Regions from separate parts of the Homo sapiens genome. Here region 1 is linked to region 2. A link means that fine-mapping ties the variant in region 2 to the expression of a gene that starts in the linked region. Tissue or cell type: lung. Region 2 holds a variant in brackets; the other region holds the start of a gene. All regions are shown on one strand. Distances are from middle to middle.

Region 1 (8,179 bases), 710 kb after region 2:
ATATGCTACTATGTGTGTAAAAAAAGTGGGGAGAGAAAATATACATACACATATGTATTTGTATATGCACAGAATATCTCTGGAAGGCTACATAAGAAGTTTCTAACAGTGGCTGTCTCTAAGGAGGGAAACTGGGATGGTGGGGGGCGGGGAGGGGGACTTCCCTGCATTCTTATTTGTGTCTCTTGAATTTTGAACTATGTGACTAGTTTATTACCGGTTCAAAAACAAAATTAAAAGTGTAAATTTAAAAAAATTCAAATTAAGTAATAATTGTTTAAAAAACTGGTAGTGTCCAGGGCTGCCTCCAGAAGCTGGTGTGTAGCCTCTGACAGTCCATTCCCATTTCATTTGTGAGGAAAGAGAGGTCCAAAGAACTGAAGGCCATAGGCCACGTAAATGGCCAAGCCTGGGTTTGCAGCTCCTGCCTGGGTCCCACCTCTGCTCATCACACCCTACAAGGAGCCAGCCACTTTCAATCTATGGTAGCGCCTAAGATAAATGGAAGAGCCTAGGCTGCCAGCAACTATTGCCTACATGGCCTTGGGCAAGTTACCACATTTCTGTGCCTCAATTTCCCCAAATGTAAACCCAGAGAAGCTGTTTTTATGATAGTTATGCAACTGCAACTGGCTGGCAATGCCTGGCCTATAAGCAGCTGTTGAACAAATGTCAGCATCTCCCTGGCATCCTGGGCCTGTCGCATGGCTGGCTGGCTGGCTGCTGAATTTGGCTGTAAGGTAGCATGCCTGCTTCTTTGCTCTACATAGCACCTAGGATGTGGCAGCAGCTTGATAAATGAGAAATGTCTCCAAAATGCTGAGGATGGGACACTTCAGAGTCCCTTCTGCAGTAGCCTCTTCCCCACCCAATAAACTAATAAATAAATGCATCTTGGTTTCTATAGGAGGCTAAGCCTAACTCAAAGCATCGTACCAAGAAGACTGGGGCCTTTATTCCCTGGTGGGATGGGAACACCTCCTCACATGGGTGCAGAACCTTATCCACTATTTCAGGAGAACCTCAGAGCATCCCTTGGAATTAGGCAGGGCAGAAAACATTGCCCCCTTTTTTCAGATGGAAAAACTGAGGTCTGGAAGGCACTTGCTATGTCCCACAAATAGAAAGAACTCCCAATAGCTAAACTTAAGTCCAGTGATCACAAATGCCAAGGTCTGTGCCTAACAGAGGTCACACTTGAGGCTGACAACAGCCTAATATATTAGGTACTACTCTAAGACCCATTTCACAGAGGGGTCTGAGGCTCAGAAAGGTTGAGTAACTTGCCCAGGGTCACATAACTAGTAGATGACAAGAGTGAAGTTACACAGCCAAGCAGACTGGGGCCCATGCTGGACTCCTCAGCACACCGGGGAGGACTGGCTGGGAATGGGAATCTGTGTCTGCTGGTTCCAAGTACAGGCATCCTTCCTGCAAGCCTTGAAGCCAGTGAGTCGGGAGGGGCCCAGGCACACTGCAGGCACCCTTGTCAATGTTTGCTGAATGAACGGACTCTGCACGACCAGGACATTCTCCCCTGCTGGGGTAGCATGTACCCTGGAGCCAGCAGGTGGGGGGCCACTGGATGCCCAAGTGCAATGCATCCAGCCAGCAAGTCTATTTTAAACTCCCCTGGTTAGCAGAGCCCCTCCCCAGCCTGGATTCGCATGGAGGCCAGCATTAACAAGCTCACTGTCTGGAAGCTCACTGTGTGGAAAATCGCTTTTTCCACATGCACCCACTCATAGAGGAAAAGCCATGTGAAGGCACAGCAAGAAGGAGGCTGTCTGCAAGCCAGGAAGAGAGCCCTCATCAGAAACCAAATCAACCAGCACCTTGATCTTGCCCTTCCCAGCCTCCAGATCCATGAGAAACAAATTTTGTTTAAGCCACCCAGTCTATGCTATTTTGTCTGGCACAAAATGGTACAAATGTAACAAGCTCACTTGTTACATTTTAAAAATTAGTGTTTAAAATGTAAAAAATAATCATGACCCACCCACATAGAACAAGAGAGAACCGGCAAGTGGTTCTTTCCAGAGGCTCCAGCTACCTGTGGGGGCGGCTAGAAGGTCCACCAGCCCTGTCACTCAGGACCACACCTGGCTAGGGCCCCCTTCTCAGTTCCTAGCGTCTATTTGTCAAGGCTTGACTGAGCTTCTGAAGAAGGAGCCAGGAATTTTCTCTAACCAGGGTCACAGGCCAGGGCACTGGAGTGAGCAAAGTCTTATTAGTCTTTATAAAAGCTAGCTGCTGGCTTCTGGATTAAAAAATAAAGAGAAAGGCAGGCAAGGAAGTGCCCAACCTTCCCCAAAACAAGCTGGCTGTGGCCTGGAACGTGCTCCTGGGTCACCTGCGGGAGCCCGGCCATGCACAGACAGACAGCCCCACACAAGGAGGCAGGCACTGCTGGGGCCGCGGCAAAACCTCATCTGGGCTGGGAAGCCTGGGTGCTGGTTCCAAGGAGGTTCCTGACTCTGGCTAGGTGGCTCGCCCCTCTGTGCCTCGATCTCCTGGGCTGTGAACCGGGGTGGGGAGCTGGTAGGGCTAACCTGTGGGAAGGCACTGGGAAGCGCAGGGCACCGCCTACTGGCCGCGGCAGAACCGGCTTTGCGGTGTAAACAGCCCCAGCCTCAGGCCCCGCAGCTGGGACCGAGAGAATCAGCCACCGTCTGGATACTTCGGGCCGACGGGTCCATACCAGGCCCCCACCATACAGGCGGTGAGGTCCAGTCTCAGGGAGGAGGAGGGGAGAGGATTTGGGGAAGAGAAGATAGAGACCCAGAAAGAGGGGTGGCAGAGAGCAAGGAGAGAGAGGAGGGACGGTGGGGAAGGGACCACGGATGGGGTAGGGTCCTGCGGCTCCCCTGGCAGCCCGCAGCCGCCCCCAGGGCCCGGGAGGGAGGTCGCTGAGCGCGAGTCTGGGGGCGGCCGGGACCGTAGCCGGAAGAGCCCGAGCCGGCCCGCACTTACTGTCGCCGCTGCGCCACGCCGCCGCTGCCTCCGGCGCACGGCCAGGACCACTGGGCTTGGCAGGCGGCAGGCGGGCTCCTCCCCCGGCCCCGCCCCGCCCCTCGCGGCAGCACGCCGCCGCTTCCCCGTTTGCAAACACGCTTTTTTCCTTTGTCTTCTGCCGGCGCGCCGGGGCTCCCCCTTCTGGCGCTGAGCTGGGGCCTGCGTGCGCCCATTTTATAGGAGAAAAAGTGAGTCACCCAGTCTTAAACGCACTGCCCATGCTTGCGATGGGTGCGCTGCGCATCAGGCCTTTTGGTTGCTGCTCCTTCTTTACCTTGGAGCCAGACCCCACTGTCTCAGACCTCCCCTTTAGCTACTATAACCTGCACCCCAGGACTCAAAGGAGCCCTCATCTTGTCCCCAGGCCGCTGCAGAGACCCCTCTCCAAAGGCCGCTTCTACCCTTACCGGCTGCCGCTGCTCTGGAGGTGAAGCGGGACCCACACCCGGACTGAACTGGGCCTCCCAGGCCAGGCAGCTATTTTCAGTAGACCCAGAACATGGCAGTCAGCAATTCCAGCCCTCACACTTGACCTCAGCCATAGCGTGTAACACACAGCTGCCGCGTGTTCTTTAAGAAAGCAGGGGCCGGGCGCGGTGGCTCACGCCTGTAATCCCAGCACTTTGGGAGGCCGAAGCAGGCGGATCACCTGAGGTCGGGAGTTTGAGACCAGCCTGGCCAACATGGCGAAACCTCGTCTCTACTGAAAATACAAAAGTAGCCGGGCATGGTGGTGCGTGCCAGTGATCCCAGCTATGTGGGAGGCTGAGGCAGGAGAATCGCTTGAACCCGGGAGGCGGAGATTTCAGTGAACCGAGATGGTGCCACTGCACTCCAGCCTGGAGCCTGGGCGACAGAGCAAGACTCCATCTCAAAAAAAAAAAAAAAAAAAAAAAGGCGGAAACCTTCCTGACTCCCGGTCCTGGCCCAGTTGGCCTATTCAGAGCGGGGATCTGGATGCTTCACAGGGCCTGAAGATCTGTGACCATGGATAGTAAATTCTTGCAGTTGCCATCCCAGGGCTCAGGGGTGCCACAGAACCCATTGAGGCTGTCAGTGTGTGGACAGGTTCTCAGAACATCCCCACTCCCTGCCCCAGCCTCTCATTTTATAACCACCATTCCCCAAACACTGGCCTGATCATAAAAGTCTCGAGTACACATCCAGATTCTGGGGACCTCTCCCCAGGAGGGTTGCTGCCACTCCCCAATCCCTGAGGGTGGTGCTGTATCTGCTTTGTTTGCTCTTCCCTCATCGTGGGCACATAATTTGTGTTCAATAAATACCTGGATTAATACAACCCATCACTCAGGGGGTGCAGAATGGGGATCCAGAATGGATCTATTTAACAAGCTCCACCAGCAGGCGAGTTTGGAGACTAGCACCCTAAATTGTCAGAAAGCCCCCCGGCCCAGGAGAGGAAGGGGCTTAGCTCCAGGCTTACAAGCTGAGGGATAATGGTAAAATTACTAAACCTCTCTGAAACCCAGGGTCGGCTTAGGACTGTCGGGAGAATTAAGTCAGGTGATCCATGCCAGGCACTCAATGCAAATTTCCATCACTTCCAAGGAAGACACTCCCCACCCCCAAAATGTGATAGTGTATATGTTAGTTTAGTCATCAGGCCTTATTTTTAGCCTCTTTACGTTGGAAAAAAATCCTCTAATATACAGAGCATTTTCATGAACAGTCTCCCATTTGATTCCACCCCCCCACCCCAGTACCCAGTGAAATGGGACTGTTGTCCCCATTTTACAGATGAGGAAAGCCAGGCTCAAAGAGGTCAAGTGGCTTCCCAGGGCACACAGCTGGCAGTGATGGAGTGGCAGAACCCAGAGCCAAGGCTCTTTTTGTCATGCCCGGTTACAGGCAGGCAGGTGAGGCTGAGGGGAGCTGGGACAGCACGAGGGACAAAGCCGTAGGATTCAGTGAGGGCAGCAGATCAGGGCTATTTCTGGTCCAGCCCCAAGACCATGACCCATGTCTGTGAAGCTCCGGTGCTTTGTCACTTGATTGCTTTTACTTCATGCAGAGTCCTGAGTTGTTTGTAGTCATTGTTATCTTTATCTTTGGAGAATGTGCATGTATGTGAGTGAGTGAGACAGTTTCAGGACACCTGCTTAGAGAATCAGAGGTGCCAGGAGCCCTCTTCCAGAGCTCTGAGGCTGAGGTCTTTCTCCAAATGGAGGAGGCGCCAGCCACTTGGGGATTTGCTGGTTGCTAGGGCTGAGTTCAGGAAGGGGCTCTGGGGATGGCCTCCATCATGAAAGCAGAAAGCCGTGGGAGGAAACAGGTTGCTAATGCATCCGTGGGGCTGCTTCCCGGACAATGTGGGCTTGTCTTCTCCTCCAGGATCTAGGCGGATGGCGGTGGTAATGTCTAGCTTGGGGACAAGATGAGTCAGGTACTGTTGGGCACACAGCTTCCCAGGGAATGTTTGAGGCTTTGGGGGATCAGGGAAGGAACAGGAGAATGGGGGTCCAGAGCCCTGAGCTCTGAGTCTGCCCTGGCCCCTGACCAGCAGGCCCTTCAGTGACCAGGTAATAAAAACATTTACCCTGACAGATGATCAGAAAAGAGGGAGATTGGGTCAAGAAAGGGAAGTAGAGAGGAAACAGAATAAAAGTGTTTTCACAATACCTACTTCATAGCAGCGGACTCCAGGGAGGGGAGGGATGGGGAGGCTGGGGTGGGCAGGCCTCAGAAATTGGCTGGGTTCCTGTCCCTTGCCTGAAGTTATCCTGAACATTGCTTTTGATAAGTGCTATAGGAGCGGAAAGGTAATTTTTTCTAGCCTTCATGAGGTAGGGTAGACACCTGAAACAATCTTGAGATTGAGAAGAGAAAAACAAACAGAAGTTTAGTAATGTGTATATGTCATGTGCACTTGGGAAATACTCAGAGAAATAAGTAAATCTCCAAAAACCACGGCTTTGAGTTCAGGCTTAAATGCCATCTTCAACTGAAACAAAGAAAGAAGGCCCAGCTGTGGGGATGTGGGCAGGAAAAGCTTAGTCAACAAGGGGAAGGTTGGTCTTGCAGACTGAAGTCCATGCCTTCTCCATTGGTGTTTCTAGTGATTAGAGACATCTTTCTCTTCCTGGTGCAGACAGGGAGACACCCTGATGTATGATTTCTTTTAAAGATGTAAGTTTCTCTTTCAAAGGGTAAGTTTTCCTTTTGTTCTTAGAGCTTCTCCTGTGTCTGCAGTTTCTCAAAATAACCAGCTCAGAATTATTCTTATGCCAAGGAGCCATATTTTGGGTGGCCTATTCTGGTCTGGTCTCCTACAGTCATAAGTTTGCGGTAGTGTGTCCTGAACCCCATCTGTGTCTAGGAATGCAGTGGCCATGCTTTTCTGCCTTGATAGCTCCCAACTCTGTATCTGGCTGGGGCATATGAGGCATTGCAACCGAGTGGATTCAATGACAACAACCATCTGTGCTCAAGTATTGTTGGAGAAGGTCAGGGAAAATATTTGTAAATGGTAAAGTACTACATCCATTAGGCATCTTTATTCTTATACATGAGGAGAAAAAGAGGAGGAGGATAAGAAGGAGAAGAGAAGGAAGGAAAACTCCAAATGGCCAAAGCACTTTCCACTGGATCGACATTTTACAATCCTTAATCCTTTGAAAAAGCACCCTGGCCGGGCGCAGTGGCTTGCGCCTGTAATCCCAAGCGCGATTATTTTGGGAGGCCAAGGCGGGCAGATCACGAGGTCAGGAGTTTGAGATCAGTATGGCCAACATGGTGAAACCCCATCTCTACTAAAACTACAAAAAAAAAAAAAATAGCTGAGCATGGTGGTGGGCACCTGTAATCCCAGCTACTCGGGGTGCTGATGCAGGAGAATTGCTTGAACCCAGGAAGGCGGAGGGTGCAGTGAGCCGAGATTGCGCTACTGCACTCCAGCCTGGGCAACAAGAGCGAGACTCTGTCTCAAAAAAAAAAAAAAAAAAGATAGAAAGAAAAAGAAAAAGAAAAGAAAAAGCACCTTGTTTCTCCTTGGTTTGGAAATGCCCTGAAAGGTTCTGAGTGCTGGCAGAAGCCATCCCAGTATCACAAGAGGACCAGCTCCAGGCCCAGGGAACTGGAGGATGAGATGCCAAGGCTGGCCAGGGTGGCCGATAGGGAAGCCTCTTGGCTTGGTGGTCAGAACTGGGCCCTGGAGCCAGACAGACCTGGGCTAGGATGCTTTTTATGTGGCCCTACGAAGTCAAGCCTCAGTTTTCTCATCTGTAAAGGGGGTGAGAATAACAACCTAACAGCCTTCTAGGAGGCACAGAGTAGGTGTATGGATTGCTGTTAAAGACGGTGAGCCAGAGGACACAGCTCCCGCTCTGCCTCCAGCCCCCTGACGGCCGCCCCCATCCCGTAGAATCCACCACACACCATGAGGTCGGTGCAATTGTCAGCCCCGTTTAGCTTATGCGGAAACTGGGGCACAAAGAGGTTAGTACCTCATTCAGAGTCACACAGCTAGTCAGCGGCAGAGCCAAAATTCACATGGTTGCCTTTCTGCCTCCAGAACCCACCCAGGAGACTCCATGAAAAGTGGTTGGGAGTGGGGGTCACACAAGCCCTCATCTTTAAGACTGGAGCCCTACAGGCTCTCCTCTTCTTCTCTTCCCCAGGGTCTGTTGACCTGCAGGCGACATAACAATCAGGAAGAGTCAGAATATTTTTCACAGGCTCCTTTTGGGGGAGGGTGCGGGGCGTTGGGGCGGGGGGGCGGTGCGACGGGCGGAGCGGAGAGCGCCAGGCATAAGGCTCATGGGCCGATGCTGCCATCTCGTGGAACTTCTCTATCAGTGCAATGCTCACAGATTGGGGTCACTCACTCACTACGGTCTTTCTTTCCAGGGTTACTGGATACCCGTGCGAGGCACGAGGATTCTGAGAGATAGGGTTAGTAGTTATGGTGATAAAGCCATAACTACGGACTCATAACTTCTCTGCTTCCACATCACTAATTTATTTTTTAAGAGCCAGGGTATTGCTCTGTCACCCAGGCTGGAGTGCAGTGGCATGATTGTAGCTCACAGCAGCGTCCAGCTCCTGAGCTCAAGTAATCCTCCCGTCTCAGCCTCCCCGAGTAGCTGGAACTACAGGTGCAGGCCACCACTCCCGGCTAATTAAAAAAAATTTTATTCAGAAATGG
Region 2 (8,179 bases):
GGGCGCAGTGGCTCACGCTTGTAATCCCAGCACTTTGGGAGGCTGAGGCGGGCGGATCACGAGGTCAGGAGATCGAGACCATCCTGGCTAACATGGTGAAACCCCGTCTCTACTAAAAACACAAAAAAATTAGCCAGGTATGGTGGTGGGCACCTGTAGTCCCAGCTACTTGGGAGGCTGAGGCAGGAGAATGGCATGAACCCGGGAGGTGGAGCTTGCAGTGAGCCGAGATCGTGCCACTGCACTCCAGCCTGAGCCACAGAGTGAGACTCTGCCTCAAAAACAAAAAAACAAAACAAAACAAAAAATTCCTGGACACCTTTCTCTGTCAGCCCACCTAGCTTCTGACTGCTGCATACCTTTCATAATAGGACTCTCCAGCCATGTGTCTGCCCCTCCCCTCGTGGTGGACCTTTGGTTCTTTCCATTTCTCATCAGTTCAAAAATGCGCATTGCGTGGCCAGGCACGGTGGCTCACGCCTGTCATCCCAGCGCTTTGGGAGGCCGAGGCGGGTGGATCACCTGAAATTAGGAGTTCAAGACCAGCCTGGACAACATGGTGAAACCCCATCCCTACTGAAAAAACAAAAATTAGCCAGGCGTGGTGGCTTGCGCCTGTAATCCCAGCTACTTGGGAGGTTGAGGCATGAGAATCGCTTGAACCTGGGAGGCAGAGGTTGCAGTCAGCCAAGATTGCACCACTGCACCCCAGCCTGGGCCACAGAGCAAGATTCTGTCTCAAAAAAAAAAAAAAAAAAAAAGAAAGAAAAGAAATGCACATTGTGTGTGTTGGAAAAGCCTCCCTGGATGCACAGGGCAGGGCTTCCCCGGGGCAGAAGCGAAGACTTCACTTGCACGCTACAGCCTTGGAAATGGAGGCCCGAGGGGCTGTAATGTCCCAAGGTGAGGTCACACCAGGCGTCTCAGCCCCTCCTTTCAGGCCCTAGAGCCTGGTGTCCCCCTCCTTCCTCTCCACTGGGAGTCTCTGCCCTGAAAGAGGAGGGGAGGGACTAGGAGATCAGGCTGGGGAAAGGAGGGAAGGGGTGACTAGGTAACAGGGGGCTTCTCCCTGTGATGCTAGCAGACCCAGTGGGGACAACTGGGGAGGCAGCACAGAGACCCCTGAGGAGCTACCACACTGGAGGGGAAATACAGCCACCAAGGGCCACTGGGCCCCAGGTCTCCTGAGAACCCTCTCCTGGGTGTCCTGCTTTGGAAAAAGGCTCTGTCCAGAGTGACACTGACTCAGAAGCTATCAGGTAGGGGCCCAGACCCTTTGAGCTCAGCCTAGAACCCTGCATCCGCCAGCCCTAGGTCCTCTCAGGCTGCTGCCCCGTCACATGTTCTTACAGTACAGATACTGCACAGCAGATCCGTCAGGTCAGCCAACGAACGCTCAGGGCCGGAGGAAGAGGCCAGCTGAGCCTGTGCAGCCCACCCCTTTTCACAGCAGACCAGGTGACAGAAACGCCAACTCGGGTCCCCGAGAGCTCCTGCCATGCTTTGTGCTGGGCCTGCTGGGGACATCCACGGAAGGCACAGCTAGCTGAGGTTAAACTGGCAGGAGGATTTAGAAACTTCTAGGTGACATCACACAATAACAAGCAGAACAGACCTAACTAAAGGTTAACTAACCAACCACTGACTGGGAGCTTGAAACATGCCACATACTGTATCGAGCTGGCTCCCATCTCTCCTGCACTGGGAGGTCAGTGTTATGACAATCCCCCTTCTACAGACCAGGAAACAGGCTCGGAAGGGCACAGAACTTAGTCCAGTCCTGCAGGGGATAAGTAACGTGCCTGGGACTCAAACCCAGGCCTGTCTGACACTGACCTTCTGCTACTAAATGGTTTATAACCTTTGGAGTATCCTGGACCTCTATGAGATTTTTTTTTTTTTTTGAGACAGAGTCTCACTATGTTACCCAGGCGGAGTGCAGTGGTGCGATCACAGCTCACTGCAACCTCTGCCTCCCCGGCTCAAGTGATTCTGAGGCACAAGAGTACAGCTCTGGAGTAGCTGGGTTTACAGGCATGTGCCACCACACAGGGCTAATTTTTGTATTTTTAGAAGAGATGGGGTCTTGTCATGTTGGCCAGGCTGGTCTCAAACTCCTGACCTCAAGTGATCCGCCCACCTCAGCCTCCCAGAGGGCTGAGATTATGGGTGTTAGCCACTGTGCTGCCACCCTTTGAGATTCTAATGGAAGCCTGGAGCCCTTTAACCAGAAAAGTGCCTTGGTGTAAACACAACATGTGTGTGCAGGGCCTGCTTCCTGGGCATATGGCCTGGGCAGTTGCACAGGACCCCAAATTCACAAAAGCCCCATTTTTGGTTTAATGCTCTGCTGTTGCCATCATGAAATGCTTAATGCTTTTGTACAAGGGGTGCCACATTTTCATTTTGCCCCGGGCCCTGCAACTTCTGTAGTCTGTCCTGCATATGCGACACTGACACACACATGTCCACATGCACCACCACTTTGCAAATGACTTTAGGTGTGCAGGAATCCTATAGGCCATTATAGACTCAGGAGATACCCTTTCGCTTTGCCCTGCACCCTGGCAAGCTGTGCACACGTGCATGTGTGTGTGGAGGAAACTGTCAGGTGGATCTGAGTGTGGGCAGGGAGCTGGGCCAGCAAGCAGGGGAGGGGGCGGCAAGGCCAGCATCGACTTCCACACAGACCGTGACAGCAACTCCTACGCCTCCGGGAGAGGGAACCAGTCCTGGTAATAAATAGCCCATATCCTCAATCCATGTCCTTAAAAATCTGTCCCCTTCTTGGACAGGACAAGGGGCCTTTGTCAGGCATGGTGGCCTCAGAATAAACACAGGAAGGCGACCAGTGGCGGATGATCGGGCTGCTGTCTGGGGCAGAGTTTTCTAAGTCAGGCTTGGCATTTCACTCAGAATGCTCCTGCCTGTGGCCAACTGGAGGGATCCCTGTGCCCACGCCTGAAAGCAAGAATGTCCAGGCCGGGCAACGGGGCACAGAGATGGTTACACAAGCCTCTGAGGACAGAGAGAGCACCCTGAGCCTCTGCAGTCGGGAAGCGGCAGCTGGTGTGGGAAGGGGCTTTATACAATCTTCCCTTGATCTGTGTGATCTTGGGCAAGTGGCTTAATGTCTCCATGACTCAGTTTCCTATCTGTAAAATGCAGGTGATCATGATACCTACCCCAGGATTTTTGTGAATGTTGAATTATTGTCTAATGTCCTTCCAACAAAGCACAATAAATAATAGCTGTATTTATCATTATCATTATTATTATTTGAAACTAGGTTAGAGGACCAGGCTTCAACATAGCTGTGCTTTTAGTTTCACTGTTTGTTCATGTTATTTTTTAAAATCAGTTAAAGCCCCATGTGAGAGATCATATGCGGGGAGTGGGGAGGATTCACCAACAAAGGTTGGAGAATTAATACGGGGATGAAAAGCACCCAGGGAGAGACACAGGGCTGGTGTGTGTGTGTGTGGGGGGGGGGGTCATCCCATGACACAAGAGTCTGGAGTGCCTGGGAGGGAACGGGCCAGAGTCTAAGGCTAGGCTCTCTTCAGGGGAAAGGTTTGGAAAAGGAGCATTTCTTTTCTTTCCTTTTTCTTTTTATTATTATTTTTTTGAGACAGGTCTGTCATCCAGGCTGGAGTGCAGTGGCACGATCACAGATCACTGCATCCTCGCCCTTCTGGGCTCAAGCGATCCTCCTGCCTCAGCCTCCTGGGTACCTGGGACTACAGGTTCATGCCACCACTCCCAGCTAATACATTTTTTAATTTCTTTGTAGAAATGGGGTCTTGCTATGTTGCTAGGGCTGGTCTCAAACTCCTGGGCTCCAACTATCCTTCTACTTTGACCTCCCAAAGTGCCAATGTTACAGGAAAGGGGTCCCCACCCCATGTCCCA[A/T]GAGAGGGTTCTTGGATCTCGTGCAAGAAAGAATTCAGGGCAAGTCTGCGGTGCAGTGAAAGCAGGTTTATTAAGAAAGTAAAGGAATAAAAGAATGGCTACTCCATAGACAGAGCAGCCCTGAGAACTGCTGTTTGCCCATTTTTATGGTTATTTATTGATGATATGCTAAAAAAAAAAGGGGTGGATTATTCATGCCTCCCCTTTTTAGACCATATAGGGTAACTTCCTGATGTTGCCATGGCATCTGTAAACTGTCATGGCGCTGGTGGGAGTGTAGCAGTGAGGATGACCAGAGGTCACTCTCGTCACCATCTTGGTTTTGGTAGGATTTAGTGGCTTCTTTACTGCAAGCTGTTTCATCAGCTAGGTCTTTATGACCAGCATTTTGTGCTGACCTCCTGTCTCATCCTGTGACTTAGAATGTCTTAACTATCCGGAAATGCAGCCCAGTGGGTTTCAGCCTCATTTTACCCAGCTTCTATTCAAGATGGAGCTGCTCTGGTTCACATGCCTCTGACACTGGAATTACAGGTGTGAGTCACCTTGCTGGCCTCTTTTCCCTTTAGTAACAGCCAAGGGGCTGTTTCTGTGTCTTCACATGTGACAGATTCACGTGTGACACATCACTGGGCTCCGGGCTTGCGCCCAGCCTCGTCTTTCGGCCCAGTCACAGGAATAAGGTGCTCCGGGGGTTGTGAGCAGCCTCCTGGCACAGAGCAGGACAGGGTGTTGGGGGGCCAGGGAGGCTGGCAGTGGGGACTGGAAGGAGGGTCCCATGCTTTACCCCCCCACACACCCAGGGCTAAGAAGAGTGCTGCCCTGGAGTCCTGGGGCCTGAGAGGAGGGGGATTTAGTCATCACTGTTCACCCTCCCCCAGTATTCCAGAGGAATTGCAGCCATCTCTGTGGACAAGGCAGCTTGTTGTCTGTGAGCACTTTATGATTTTGAAATTCATCCCTGCCATAATTATAAATTAACATTTGGAGGGCTTTCTACATGCCAAGCTCTTTTCTAAGCCCTCCTGTCCGCCTTTTTTTGGAGTCAAGGTACCACTCTGTTGCCCAGGCTGGAGTGCAGTGGCTACATCTCAGCTCACTGCAGCCTCGATGTTCTGGGCTCAAGTGATCCTCCCGATTCAGCCTCCTAAGTAGCTGGGACTACAGGCATATGCCACCACGCCGGGCTAATTTTTAAATTTTCCATAGAAATGGGATCTCGCTAGGTTGCCCAGGTTAGTCTCCAGCTCCTGTCCTCAAATGATCCTCCTGCCTCGGCCTCCCAAAGTGCTGGGATTACAGGTGCGAGCTGCTGCATCCGGCCTCTTTTTAAGCTCTGTCTGCATTATCTCATTCAAATCTCACAACATTCACAACGTTCAGGGCTGAGAAAACTGAGGCTGTGAAAGGGACAATCACAAGCCCCAGGTTGCCCAGCCAGGGAAGCACTGTGAGCCGGGACGGGAACTCAGCTCAGGGGAACGTCAAAACTGTGTTCTTAACAACAGTCAGCCCAAACATTGGGTCCCTAAGCCCATGGCTTCAAGCTGGCCCTTCTCTGTGGGACAGTAGCAGCCCTCCCATCTGCTGATGTTTCTCTCTACCAGCCCCTCAGCATCTGGACAAGGCAGCTGACCCCTTCCACGTGCCCACATACCTTGGTAGCAGAGGGACCTCTCAGCATTTTTACTGGCTTTTCAGATTAAAAAAAAAGTTAGCCAGGTGTGGTGGTGGGCACCTCTATTTCCAGCTGCTTGGGAGGCTGACGCCCGAGAATTGCTTGAACTCGGGAGGCGGAGGCTGCAATGAGCCGAGATTGCGCCACTACACTTCAGCCTGGGCGACAGAGTGAGACTCCATCACAAAAAACCCCCAAAACAAAAAAAACAAAAACAAAAAAACTGGGAGAAGAAGGAAATGGGGAGGAGTTGAGCGGAGGCTCAGGAGAGTCAGGCAAATGAACCACAAGAAGCTGGGAGAGGGGCTGATCTTTCCATCTCCTGTGAAGGCAGCCGTGACATCCTCCACTGGAAGGATGAGTACCTGGGGCTGGAAGGGGTTGCACAACTTGCTCAAAGCCACCAGCCTTGTTCCTGACAACCTGACACCCTCACAGACCCACCATTGTCCCCCTGCCCAGAGTTCCAGCACTGCGTGGGGTGAGGCGGGAGGTGAGGCAGTGTTTGCAACAGCTCAAGGCCGCAGTCCAGGATGACCCTGCCTCCCCTTAAGCTGCCTGCCCGAGAGAACAAACACAAGGCTGCCGCCAGAACTGTTTGTTCCAGCCAAGCCCCGAAGATAGGGCCCCTGCTCCCACTCTCTGTAGGAAGATAGGAGCCTCACTCCCATGGCGCCGGTTAGCATTGGACCAAGCTCCTTCTCCCGGCTTTTTGTAATGTATCACTTTGTCCCATCCATCCTAATACACACACACACACACACACACACACACACACACACTCACAGGAGGACTGGTCAGGGTTCCCTGCACATGACCCTCATATTTTGTAGGGGAAACTGGGATTCATTTCGGATCATCCACTCTTTCCTCCCTCCTAAGACCATGTTCCTCATATTCCGCCACCTCAGACGAGGTGGGGCTCAGTCTTTGTTCAAGCCGTATTGCTTCAGCCTCATAACTTCAAGACCTTGAGCAAGTTACTTTACACCTCCAAGCCCTGGTTTCCTCATCTGCAAAGTGGGAATAATAAAATAATCTAGTTTGCAGAGTTGCTGAGAGATTGTTTTATTTTTGTTTAGTTTCTGTTTTGTTTTGCTTTTTTTGAGAAGGAGTCCCGCTCTGTTGCACAGGCTGGAATACAATGACGCAATCTCGGCTCACTGCAACCTCTGCCTCCCGGGTTCAAGTGATTCTCCTGCCTCAGCCTCCCGAGTAGCTGGGATTACAGGTGAGCACCACCAGGTTGGGCTAATTTTTGTATTTTAGTAGAGACGGGGTTTCACCATGTTGGCCAGGCTGAACTCCTGACCTTAGGTGATCCGCCCACCTCAGCCTCCCAAAGTGCTGGGATTACAGACGTGAGCCACCACGCCTGGCCAAGATTGTTTTACGTCAACAGCGAAACAGTATCTGGTACAGAGTAGGTGTTAAACAAATAATTGCTATTGTTATTTTGTTATTATCTGGTCCTCACCTCTATCCTCAAAAATAGCTCCAGTTGACTCAGTTATTCCTCTTTTATAAATCACTACCAAAACCAACACTTATCAAAACACCACTCTGTATCCCATAAATATATACAATTATTATATGTCAATTGAAAATAAAAGGGAAAAAAACCAATACAAACAAATAAAAAACACCCAGGTGTGTTTCAGCATCTCTCGTCTCCTTGGGGCACTAACTCCTTGCCACACTTCACCTGCATGAGAGCTGAGTAAGCTTCTGGAGCTTTGGAGAAAGTCTGGGGTCAGGAAATTGGGAGATGTTACTGGCACCTGAGAGGGGGAAGCTGTGAGTGGGGACAGGAGAGACTGCCCAGCTGCAGCTCAAGTCCAGAGTGGTTCAAAGGGCATGGCTGGGGGACAGAAAGCGTATACTCCCTTGCCTCCTGTACTAGTGCAGGAACTGTGAAATAGGCATTCAAATATGCAACTGGCAGGAATGTCATTTGTACAACCATTTCAGAACATTGGTTGGTAGGCTGGGATAGTGGCTCAGGCCTGTAATCTCAGTACTTTGGGAGGTTCAGGTGGGAGGACTGCTTGAGCCCAGGAGTTAGAGACCAGCCTGGGCAACATAGGGAGACCCCATGTCTATTATTTTTTAAAAACAAAAACAACAACAAAAAGAACATTAGTTGGCAGCATGAATTGAGAGATACTAAAATGTAGATTTTTGTTGTTGTTGTTTTGAGACAGAGTCTCACTGTGTCGCCCAGGGTGGAGTGCAGTGGCGCGATCTCGGCTCATTGCAGCCTCTGCCTCCTGGGTTTAAGTGATTCTCATGTCTCAGCTTCCCAAGTAGCTGGGATTACAGGCATTTACCATCACACCGGGCTAATTTTTGTATTATTAGTAGAGACGGGGTTTCACCATGTTGGCCATGCTGGTCTCGAACTCCTGACTTCAGGTGATCCACCCGCCTTGGCCTCCCAAAGTGCTGGGATCACAGGCGTGAGCCACCACACCCAGCCTAGATATTCTTTGATGCTAAAATTCTGTTAACAGAAATGTATCCTAGGAAGATAATAGAGTACGAGAAAAAAAAACCCCAGAGATGCAGATTGAGTTTTTTACATAAAGA

What was found. PIP is the estimated chance that this variant, and not a neighbour inherited with it, causes the effect.
Region 1: it holds the start of SLC29A3, and the variant in region 2 is fine-mapped to the expression of SLC29A3 in lung (TOPMed, PIP 0.96).

The regions. Positions count from the first base shown.
Region 1 is chr10:71,314,105-71,322,283 of GRCh38, reverse strand. It overlaps SLC29A3 (solute carrier family 29 member 3), which reads right to left and starts at 3,025. Exons shown (of 6, transcript NM_018344.6): 1 at 2,974-3,025. The coding sequence starts at 2,974. It overlaps LOC124902445 (a long non-coding RNA gene), which reads left to right and starts at 2,621. Exons shown (of 2, transcript XR_007062183.1): 1 at 2,621-2,722; 2 at 3,380-4,315. RefSeq lists a silencer at 2,779-3,228.
Region 2 is chr10:72,028,900-72,037,078 of GRCh38, reverse strand. LOC124902448 (a long non-coding RNA gene) reads right to left here. Exons shown (of 2, transcript XR_007062187.1): 2 at 8,160-8,179. Among named protein-coding and RNA genes, the nearest start is that of SPOCK2, 56 kb to the left of the region's middle. The variant A/T (reference allele first, on the strand shown) is at 3,913.